3 linked regions of the Homo sapiens genome follow. The protein of the gene in region 1 purifies or fractionates together with the protein of each later gene. This does not show direct contact. Each region holds a gene or a part of one and is shown in the gene's direction. Other genes may lie near its edges. The genes, in order: KIF5B, XPR1 and PSMB7.

The links.
Region 2: the proteins of KIF5B (region 1) and XPR1 purify together in Homo sapiens (affinity purification with mass spectrometry; 2 studies listed by BioGRID and IntAct, with this or other methods). This does not show direct contact.
Region 3: the proteins of KIF5B (region 1) and PSMB7 fractionate together in Homo sapiens (co-fractionation; 2 studies listed by BioGRID). This does not show direct contact.

Annotation. Positions count from the first base shown.
Region 1 is NC_000010.11:32,032,420-32,036,076, reverse strand, and holds part of KIF5B (kinesin-1 heavy chain), read left to right. Parts: intron 1-82; coding exon 83-187; intron 188-409; coding exon 410-555; intron 556-1,238; coding exon 1,239-1,387; intron 1,388-2,038; coding exon 2,039-2,232; intron 2,233-3,302; coding exon 3,303-3,371; intron 3,372-3,657. UniProt on the Homo sapiens protein: Microtubule-dependent motor required for normal distribution of mitochondria and lysosomes. Can induce formation of neurite-like membrane protrusions in non-neuronal cells in a ZFYVE27-dependent manner.
Region 2 is NC_000001.11:180,827,384-180,831,040, forward strand, and holds part of XPR1 (solute carrier family 53 member 1), read left to right. Parts: intron 1-3,657. UniProt on the Homo sapiens protein: Inorganic ion transporter that mediates phosphate ion export across plasma membrane.
Region 3 is NC_000009.12:124,352,965-124,355,600, reverse strand, and holds the end of PSMB7 (proteasome subunit beta type-7 precursor), read left to right. Parts: exon of another isoform or gene 1-1,891; coding exon 1,892-2,003; 3' UTR 2,004-2,136; downstream 2,137-2,636. UniProt on the Homo sapiens protein: Component of the 20S core proteasome complex involved in the proteolytic degradation of most intracellular proteins. This complex plays numerous essential roles within the cell by associating with different regulatory particles.

The DNA of each region.
Region 1 (3,657 bases):
ATGACATATGAACATTTTAGAAAATGTAAAGAAAATTATAAACTTGTAATTTTGTTTCATTCTTTTGAAATCTTATGTATAGGTTAGTAAAACTGGAGCTGAAGGTGCTGTGCTGGATGAAGCTAAAAACATCAACAAGTCACTTTCTGCTCTTGGAAATGTTATTTCTGCTTTGGCTGAGGGTAGTGTGAGTATACATGTCTTCTATCTCCCTGTTACCTTATGGGGCATTATTTAAATATAGGTGTATATGTGTGCCTGGGTGTGTATGAGAGAGAGAGAGAGAAAGAGAGATTGAGATTCAATGTGTTTGAATCAGTATGTGTAAGTTAGTTGTCTTTTGGGAGTTTATTTTATAATAACATTTTATTATACTGGTCTTGTTTTCTTTCTTTGTTTTTGTATGCAGACATATGTTCCATATCGAGATAGTAAAATGACAAGAATCCTTCAAGATTCATTAGGTGGCAACTGTAGAACCACTATTGTAATTTGCTGCTCTCCATCATCATACAATGAGTCTGAAACAAAATCTACACTCTTATTTGGCCAAAGGTTTGTTGTTAAGAAAGTACAAAACCTAAATTTAGATAGACCTTTTGTTTATAAAATGTAGGAAAATGTGAGCTGTTATTCCAACCTGTACATACTGTTTTGTGCTAGACACACTCAGTTTGAATTGATGACAGATAATACAAGGTGGGTCTGATTTTTAGACTGCTTGGTTTAAGTTTTAGTACACATTAAAGTCAGATGTAATTTTAGTCAAATTTGTGTGACAAGCTGTAATTTGGTATTAAAGAAAATAAGCATTTGAATCAAATAATGAGGTCAAAGCCTGGCAAACATAATCCTCTGTTAAGCCTGTAGACATGCATGACAGGTTAATATAATCTGTATGAGATGATTAGGAAAATCAGTAATGATGATTCCGTCTTTGACTTTCAACAGTAATTTCTTAATTCAGCCTTGCAAACAAATTGGAAAAATATAGGCCTTTGTCTTTTATTTTTAGTGGTTTGTTGATTTTTTTTTTTTTAAAGCTATTCACAGATTTTGGAGCAGACTCAAATTTAGTTGAGTTGTAAATAACGTCATATGTTGCGGCTTTTAGTATTTAGTCTAAGAGATTACTGGACAAGCATAAGTTTCTTAGCCATATATACATATATTCCATATAGATAAAATTAAAAATAATTTCAGTCTCATCCTTTTTTTCCTCCAATTACATCTCTTAGGGCCAAAACAATTAAGAACACAGTTTGTGTCAATGTGGAGTTAACTGCAGAACAGTGGAAAAAGAAGTATGAAAAAGAAAAAGAAAAAAATAAGATCCTGCGGAACACTATTCAGTGGCTTGAAAATGAGCTCAACAGATGGCGTAATGGTAATAACTTAAGAATTTGTCATCTTCAGTTTGTTAAATACAGATTTAGAGCATAGAAACGTAGAAATAGTTCAGCAAAATCAGTAAGTGACTAGATCAAGAAATTTAATAGACATCGAAATAATTTTTAAAAAAATTAATAGAAATCCTGGAGCTGAAAAATAAAATGAGCAAAATGCAAGAGACCATCAGTAGTAGAATTAATTAAGCAGAAGAATCTGAACTTGAAGACAGATTATTTGAAAATAACACAGAGAAGAAAAAGTTTGAAAGAACGAGGCTGGGTGCACTGGCTCATGCCTGTAATCCTAGCACTTTGGGAGGCCAAGGTGGGCAGATCACTTGAGGTCAGGAGTTAGAGACCAGCCTGGCCAACATGTTGAAACCCCATCTCTACTGAAAACACCAAAATTAGCCTGGCATGGTGCTGAGCGCCTGTAATCCCAGCTAATCAGGAGTCTTGAGGCAGTAGAATTGCTTGAACCCTGGAGGCAGAGGTTGCAGTGAGCCTAGATTGCACCACTGCACTCCAGCCAGGGTGACAGATTGAGACTCTGTCTCAAAAAAAAAAAAAAAAATTTTTAAAGGAATGAAATTGAAATTAGCTTTAGACGTCGTTTTTTTATTAACCACTTTATTTTCTTATTTTAGGGGAGACGGTGCCTATTGATGAACAGTTTGACAAAGAGAAAGCCAACTTGGAAGCTTTCACAGTGGATAAAGATATTACTCTTACCAATGATAAACCAGCAACCGCAATTGGAGTTATAGGAAATTTTACTGATGCTGAAAGAAGAAAGTGTGAAGAAGAAATTGCTAAATTATACAAACAGCTTGATGACAAGGTAGGTATTGCTTGATTTAGGTCTGCTTTATATTAGGATACTATTGACATGGGTGTTTTTATTTTCTAACTTTTCTCATTTCAGTGCTGTGGGCACTTAGGATCTTTATGCATCTTCCTTGATTTCTGTTAATCTTGTAAAAATTATTGTATTAACAAAATAAAAAGTCATAATTTCAATTTCTGTGTGGAAACTGTATGAGCATGTATCTTTTCTTCCCCCTCTTTTTAAGCTAAAAGAACTTTATAAGGCAGCAGTCCCCAACCTTTTTGGCACCAGGGACTGGTTTCAGGGAAGACAGTTTTTCCGTGGATCAGGTCGGGGAGATGGTTTTGGGATGAAACTTCCACCTTGGATTATCAGGCATTAGATTCTCATAAGGATCCTCTAACCTAGATCTCTTGCATGCACAGCTGATAATAGAGTTCGCGCTCTTAATGATATTCTAATGCTGCTGATCTGGCAGAAGGCGGAGCTCAAGTGGTAATGCTTGCTGCTCACCTCCTGCTGTGCTTCTTGGTTCCTAACAGGCTTCCAGTACTGCTTTGTGGCCTGGGGGCTTGGGGACCCCTGTTCTAATGAAAATTTGGCATTGGGTCATTGGGAGCCTCAATGATACCAATTGTTAGAATCAGGGCTCTGAAGACTCCAATAAAAGATGATGTGAGAGATTAAGGGAAACACAATAGAGTGGAAATAATATCTTCCTGCTTTGCATATAGAAGTAATGTCAATAGTATGAATAATAGCAAACTAAGAACGTAATAGAATGGAAGGCAAGAACAAGAGTAGTAAAGAGATTAGAAGAAAATATTTTCTTAAGTTGATATTTTTAATATATTTTAAGCAGAGATGGCAGGTTCGAAGTACATGACCATTATAAGTATTGATAATTGAAAGAAATTCCTTTTGTTTTGCCATTTTCTTAAAAGAGATTAAAATAAGCAATGTTGAATTTAGAGAAATGGTTTTGAAATATTTCTGGGGAGTAGTAATCTTATAACCTGTATTGGGAAACAACTAGAACCAGGTTGTTAGCTACTGGTTAACCGGATACTTCACAATTCTAGGATGAAGAAATTAACCAGCAAAGTCAACTGGTAGAGAAACTGAAGACGCAAATGTTGGATCAGGAGGAGGTGAGTTGAATACCTTTTACATTGCTTCCAGAAAAGCTTTATAGTTTTGTTTTCTGAATCCCATTGACTTTGTCTTTAATAGTTGTATAATTTTGGGTATGACTGTCTTTGTGGGAATAAGAATGTCACATGGATAAAGTGAATTTTTACTTATTCATCGTATCTACCCAGATACAATCTGTTGTTCATTTCCGCCATCTTTTTTTTCACCCTGGTTCTTGACATTTCTCTTCTTGTCACTTACTTTGGATCCTCATTTTATCTTCTCACCCAGCAGAGCAGGGGG
Region 2 (3,657 bases), on another chromosome or scaffold:
ACATTGTGTGCTAAGTGGGCATTTCCCCAGTGTATCCTTTGTTTAAATAGCAAGCTGTGATTCATGCATGACTAGTTACTCCTATTAGCAGAATGATTGCCCATTGAGTAGATATTTATTTGTGCATCTGCTGTGTTTTTGCTAATAAATGAGGACTTGTTGATGGAATAGGTTGACAATGGTATAAGCAGTAATAGAATAATAAAATGTACTATCAGATACACTGAAATATAGAAGGAATAATTTCCTTCTATATTTGTGGTTTGTTGTTTTTGTAGTAACTGTTATAAACAGAACAGTGTTATCATTTGTAGATAATTTTAGTATTAATTGACCTGCTGACTTATTTTAATTTAAATCTCACTGGGAAAACTTACCCTTAGACTGATTCCTAGTGAATTAACAAGAATGTGTTCACTCTAGTTATGTTTTTCTGATACCGCTTTTTAAAAGCTTCATCCTAAAGTAAAAGTACATTTCTTTCTTTTTTTCTTTAATTTTTTTTTTTTTTGAGACAGGGTCTGGCTCTATTGCCCAGGCTGAAGTGCAGTGGCGTGATCTCAGCTCACTGCAACCTCCACCTCCCAGGTTCAAGTGATCCTCCCACCTCAACCTCTCCAGTAGTTAGGACCACAGGTGTGTGCCAACGTGCCTGGCCAATTTTTTGTATTTTTGGTAGAGATGGGGTTTTGCCATGTTGCCCAGCTGGTCTCGAATTCCTGGGCTCAAGTCATCTGCCTGCCTTGCCTCCCAAAGTGCTGGGATTACAAGTGTGAGCCACCACACCCATCCTTTTCTTTAATTTTTAGTGAGAAAAGCACATAGGTCATAATGGTAGGCACTGGGTGCCATTTATATCCATATTTATATTGGAATCTATGGAATTGATATATGCTATGCTCCTAAAAACAAAGCTAAAAAAATTTATAAGAAATTGATTTATTTTGATATGAATATTGTATGTCAAATTAGTATAGATTATTTACATCCATTAGGTTATACTTTCTCTCCTTAAATCTATATTTACCTCAATCAGAAATCTAATTAGGTAGCATAAACAGTGCCTCAGATTTTCTAAACAAAAATATAAATTTTAACTCACTATATTAAAAGTAAGCTAATTAAAAATTTTAAATTATAGTCCTTTGTTACATAATTTAGACATCAGTTTTTACCAACAGTCTCTTTAGTTCTATAGTAAAAATTTTACACATTTCTATTATAAGAATAGAGAGGTGTTGTCATTTAGTAACTACTTTATGTATTTTAATTTTAAAAATAACCCACAAGTTGGAGCTGCTATTAATCCCTATTTTATAAATGAAGAAACCTACATTCAGAGAAGTTAATTAACTTGCCTAAGGTCACATAGCCAGTGAAGTGATGAAGATGAGTTATGAACCCAGGCAGTCGTTTATAATCTGTACTCTTAAACACTAACATTTAACACTTAGCCCTATTAGTCACTTATGTTAGATGTTTAACTTTGATCTAGTGGATCAAACTAGTAGAATATAAAAATCAAATTTGAGGCCAGGCACAGTAGCTCATGCCTGTAATCCTAGCACTTTGAGAGGCGGAGGTGGGAGGATCGCTTAAGCCCAGGAGTTCGAGACCAGCCTGGGCAACGTGGCAAAACCCTTTCTCTACAAAAAATGAAAAATTAGTGGGGCATGGTGGCACGCATCTGTAGCCCCAGTTACTTGGGAGGCTGAGGGAGGAGGATCGCTTGAGTCCAGCAGGTTGAGGTTGCAATGAGCTGAAATTGTACCACTGCACTCCATGAAAAGTAGAAATTAAAACTTCATCTTCTTAGCTATTTATCAGTATTAACTTAAAAGAGGATGTTAACATGTTCTTTGTAATAATTTAGTGGCTTTTTTGTGTAGGTGGTAAAATATCAGCTATCCAGAATTGTCTCTGGCTTTCATAATACTGTTACTCTAGGAATTGTCACTTTAATCAAAATCACAGGGTAGAAGTGGAGAAGTTGAAAGGCCTTATCCAGATTAAGAAGAGAAGGAGGAGTGAGTTACAGAATTCTCTCCCAGAAGGCGATATCAGATAAATCTAGAATGAATTTGACTGTGTGTAAATGTCAGTGAGTTGAGTATGATGTTTATGCTCTCCCTCTCACCCGGCCTCTGACAGAGTGACTTCTTCTTTTCTCTGTATTTCCAGGGTATTTTGTGTGTATCTCTATAATATGGTGCTATAATTATACCTTTATGTATTTATTTGCCCAACTAGACTGTGGATCATTAAGGCCTGTAAGCCGCAGTGCCTGACATTTAATAAATACTTGATAAGTCTTTGTTAAATACATGAATGACTGTAATTATATTCTTCCCTTCATTGGTTGTATTATATAACATTTACTACTCCCTTCTTTCTTCCTTTTTTCATTTTCTCTTTTTGTAAATTTTCCCTTCTTCCCAGTTTTTTTTTTAAATTTTCATGTCAGTCCTATCCTTTTTCAGTCCCATCCCACCATCCCTTTTTTCCTTATTTAATGCATTATCTCCCTCTTCTGCTCTTATGGAGATTTTCTGAATTAGCCAGGTTTTGAGGATGGGGTTGGCAGAGTATGAGAGTAATGATAGTCTGTCTCATGTCAGTTATAAAGAAATTTGTCCTAGGCTACCAGTTTCATAATAGTTCATGATTAGAGATGGATTTAGACTTCCTGATCTTTTGGTGTTATATCCTAAATTATTCTATATTTCTGTCACTTTGAATCCTTTAAGTCCATTCTGCACACTAGAGTTTCTTAAAATATTACAGAAACTGGTGCCAGAGCTTCTTCGTGCATAGATGACTACCATCCTACAGTCCCCCTCTTCCTCACAAAAAGTTTGCTTTATCGGGCGCTTATGGTTGCAAATGGTATAGATTGTCTCTCTGGTTTGTTGGACTCATGGAAAGATTATGAGAGTGGTTAAGAGACTGAGCCATGGAATGAAAGTATATCAGCACCAGAAAATAATGTCTCAAAGCCTGTATGATGTCCCACAGACACCTGGTCTAGCTTCCAAAGCTCCAAGAAAGTACCCGTCATAGGTAGTTGACATCCAGGATTGAGTCATAATGTGACCATTTATCTCCCTGACATAATAAAAATAAATATTTAGAGAAACAGAAGACAGATCCAGCCAAGTCTGAGAAGAGAGTTACAGATTCCCAAGTAGAATATGTCTATGAAATGAATATAACTAGATAATCAGAGCTAGAGATTAGATTCATTTTCTCAAAACTTCTACTTACTCAGAATTTCTTCTTTCAGGAGTCACATTTCCTACTGTATAAGATAGAAAGGGGTCCTTTAGGATGAGGATTAAGGCTTCCTTCATCCCATCTTCACTTCACACAGCGCTTATCAAGACAATCTGCACAATTTGAGCCTATTTCTGGTAATTGCATTGGTACCTACTTCCCTTCTCTGCAATGCCAAGATTTCCCTTTGTAGTGATAAACAGGCTTCCACAGAATATGTTAGGAAGAGTCTGTGTCGGTCTTCTGTAAAATGGGGATATGAATAGTTCCTAGCTCATGGAATTGTTATGAAGATGAGTTAATGCTTGCATAAAGCCTTGAGGAAAATACACTGCATGAGTTACTGCCCAATACATTTAATACATTTATCATGTGTTCAGAACA
Region 3 (2,636 bases), on another chromosome or scaffold:
GAGCTCCAGGTAGGCAGGAGCCAAGTACTCCATGTAGCCTGCTTCGCTGGTTATTTTGCAAGATGCGTGATTTGAGCAAGTCCATGGTGAAGCGGTGATGGGGTAGGGAATGGTTACACCATTCAGGCTGGCCAGGGTCCTGGGCGAGGACTCTGAAAGCCACGTCTGGGCCAGTGAGAAGTGGTTGCCTAGGGAACCTGTGCTGAGCGCAGGAGTCCTCATCCACAGGGAGTGCAGCAGTGGCACATCCTACTTCCTGGGACATGGGCTGCTCCACTTGTAAACAGAGGCTCTAAACACCCAAGAACAAAAGAAAACCGCCTTGCGGCTGCTTGGGAAGAATCAGCAAGGCGACCCAGAAGCTGCTGGGCGTGTGGTGGGTGTGCAGTAACCTGCAGGGAGCCTGCTCCCCATCGGTGTCCTGGGGCCAAGGGCAGCAAGTGTCCAAGCTCCCTGGACTCTGTTGTCTTCTTTGCCAGTGACTGAAGATGGGGGCACTGCCTGAGTTAGGGGAGCCCTTCCCAGGGTGGATGCTAGGGTGCGGGCAGGGCGATAGGCCTGAGGAAGCATCCCGTGCCATGCGCCAGTGGGCCTTGCCTGGCAAGTCCCTGCTGCCTGTCTGCCCGCAGCCCTCCAGCACACGGTCTTGCAGTCCACTGGCACGTAAGGCGGAAGCTCTGAATGCATGCCGCAAAAATCGGGCACTGTCACCACAGTGGTGAGGAGGCTCTTGTGTGTCCAAGCCTCCCGGAGACACTGAGGGGTGGTTCAGAGGAGTCAGGCACACAGAGGCCACGTGGGACTTTGGCTCTAAGACTGCACGCTGCCACCAAGGTTCCAGCGTGTGAGGGATGAGGGGCATCCTCAAACTGATGGGGTGGGGACACATTGTTCAAAGGTACTTTTGCTTGGATTCTTTAAGAGGGTGGGGGTCGGGGGAGGCTTGGCAGCATAAAGGCAGGCCGCTCTGGGCTGACCGTGCTCCTGACCTGGATGCAGAACTGTGGAAGTTGCCCTCCTTGTTCTGCTTCCTGCTCCCTCTTTTAGCCCGTGTGTCCAGGGGAGAGGATGGGTGTTCCGGGAGCACAAGGCCATGGCACAGCCAGCAGCCTTCTGGCAGTTCCTGAAGGACAGCAAGTTTGACAGAGATATTACCCCAGCTGGGGCTAGAGCAGAGGAACAGTTGGTTGTGTGCTGCCATTTGACAGTATCCTAATTCCTGACCCACTGTGAGCATTAACAGCCCAAATACATATCTTCTAGACAGTCTGGTGCTCAAAGAAACCTCTGCCAGATTCACTCCAGGAAGAAGGTGTTGGGTGTGTCCTAGTGGGGACCCACTGTGTCCCTGAAAGGGACAGTTAACTTTTCTTGAGACTTGAGAGTGGTCTGAAATGACAAGCCCAGAGTCTGGCTGCACATTTTTTTTACACTGTTTATGCTTCCAGATGTTTGTGCAGTGTCTAAGGTAACAGTTAAGTCATTCTTGTTGCTGCACGGAAGAGCAATCATGCCCTTCTCTTGTGTAATGATGGGATTTGCTTCCTGCTGTCCCTGAACAGTATTGTAGGGAGGTTGAAGATTGATGTCAAGGGACCAAGTGCTTCCCAGCACTTGTGGGGATGGTGGGGTGGGGGGAGAGTCACGTGTCCACCAAGGGCCAGGTGCCGTGTTCACTAATGACACTCTTTGCCTCCCAGGCACCCCCATTTTGCAGCACTTGAGAACTGAGGAAGTTGAATCCCCCAAGATCACAGAGCTGGGATCGGGAGAGCCAAGATTCCAGTCCAGCCTGCTCACTGCGTTGCCTGAATATTTATTTTCACTGTCTTCTGCCCTCTGGCACCTTGAGGAGAATCCTAACTCTGTGCTTTTGTTTTTCTCTTACTAGGCTTGGCCGGTACAGGTGTGAGAAAGGGACTACTGCAGTCCTCACTGAGAAAATCACTCCTCTGGAGATTGAGGTGCTGGAAGAAACAGTCCAAACAATGGACACTTCCTGAATGGCATCAGTGGGTGGCTGGCCGCGGTTCTGGAAGGTGGTGAGCATTGAGGCCCAGTAAGACACTCATGTGGCTAGTGTTTGCCGAATGAAACTCAACTCAATAAAAAACAAAAACCAAATTGGGCAGCTGAGGTCTGGGCACTGTGTGGTGTTTTTGGGGGCAGTAGGGGGCTGCTAAGGCCATTGGCCTGGCCCTTCAGGGTGCTGATCCTCCTTGAGCACTGGCCTAGGCTCAGAGGAGAGCGTAGGAGCCATGCGCCCCTCCTGAGGACAGATAGGTTCTGTCTGCTGTCAGAAGTCAGAGTGGACTCCCTTGAGGCTTCAGGTGACCATCGATACCTACCCTTTTTGCTGGCTGAATTTGTTTGGGGTGGCCTCAGGTTTGGTTTGGTTTTGAAATGGGGTGATAAGTGCAGCACACCCTCCACCTCAGCAGCCAAGTAGGAAAAAAATGGCAAAGCCAAAGCTGTGTTCTCAAGCCCAGCTCAGTTCTGAGAACCAAGAGAAGGTGAGCAGGTGCACCGCCAGAGCTGTGTGAAGGTGGGTGGACCTCACTTTGGCCGGTTTCACAGAAATAAAAGGAATGTTTTGGGGTTACGGTTTTGTAATAAGTAGGACATGATCATTTCAC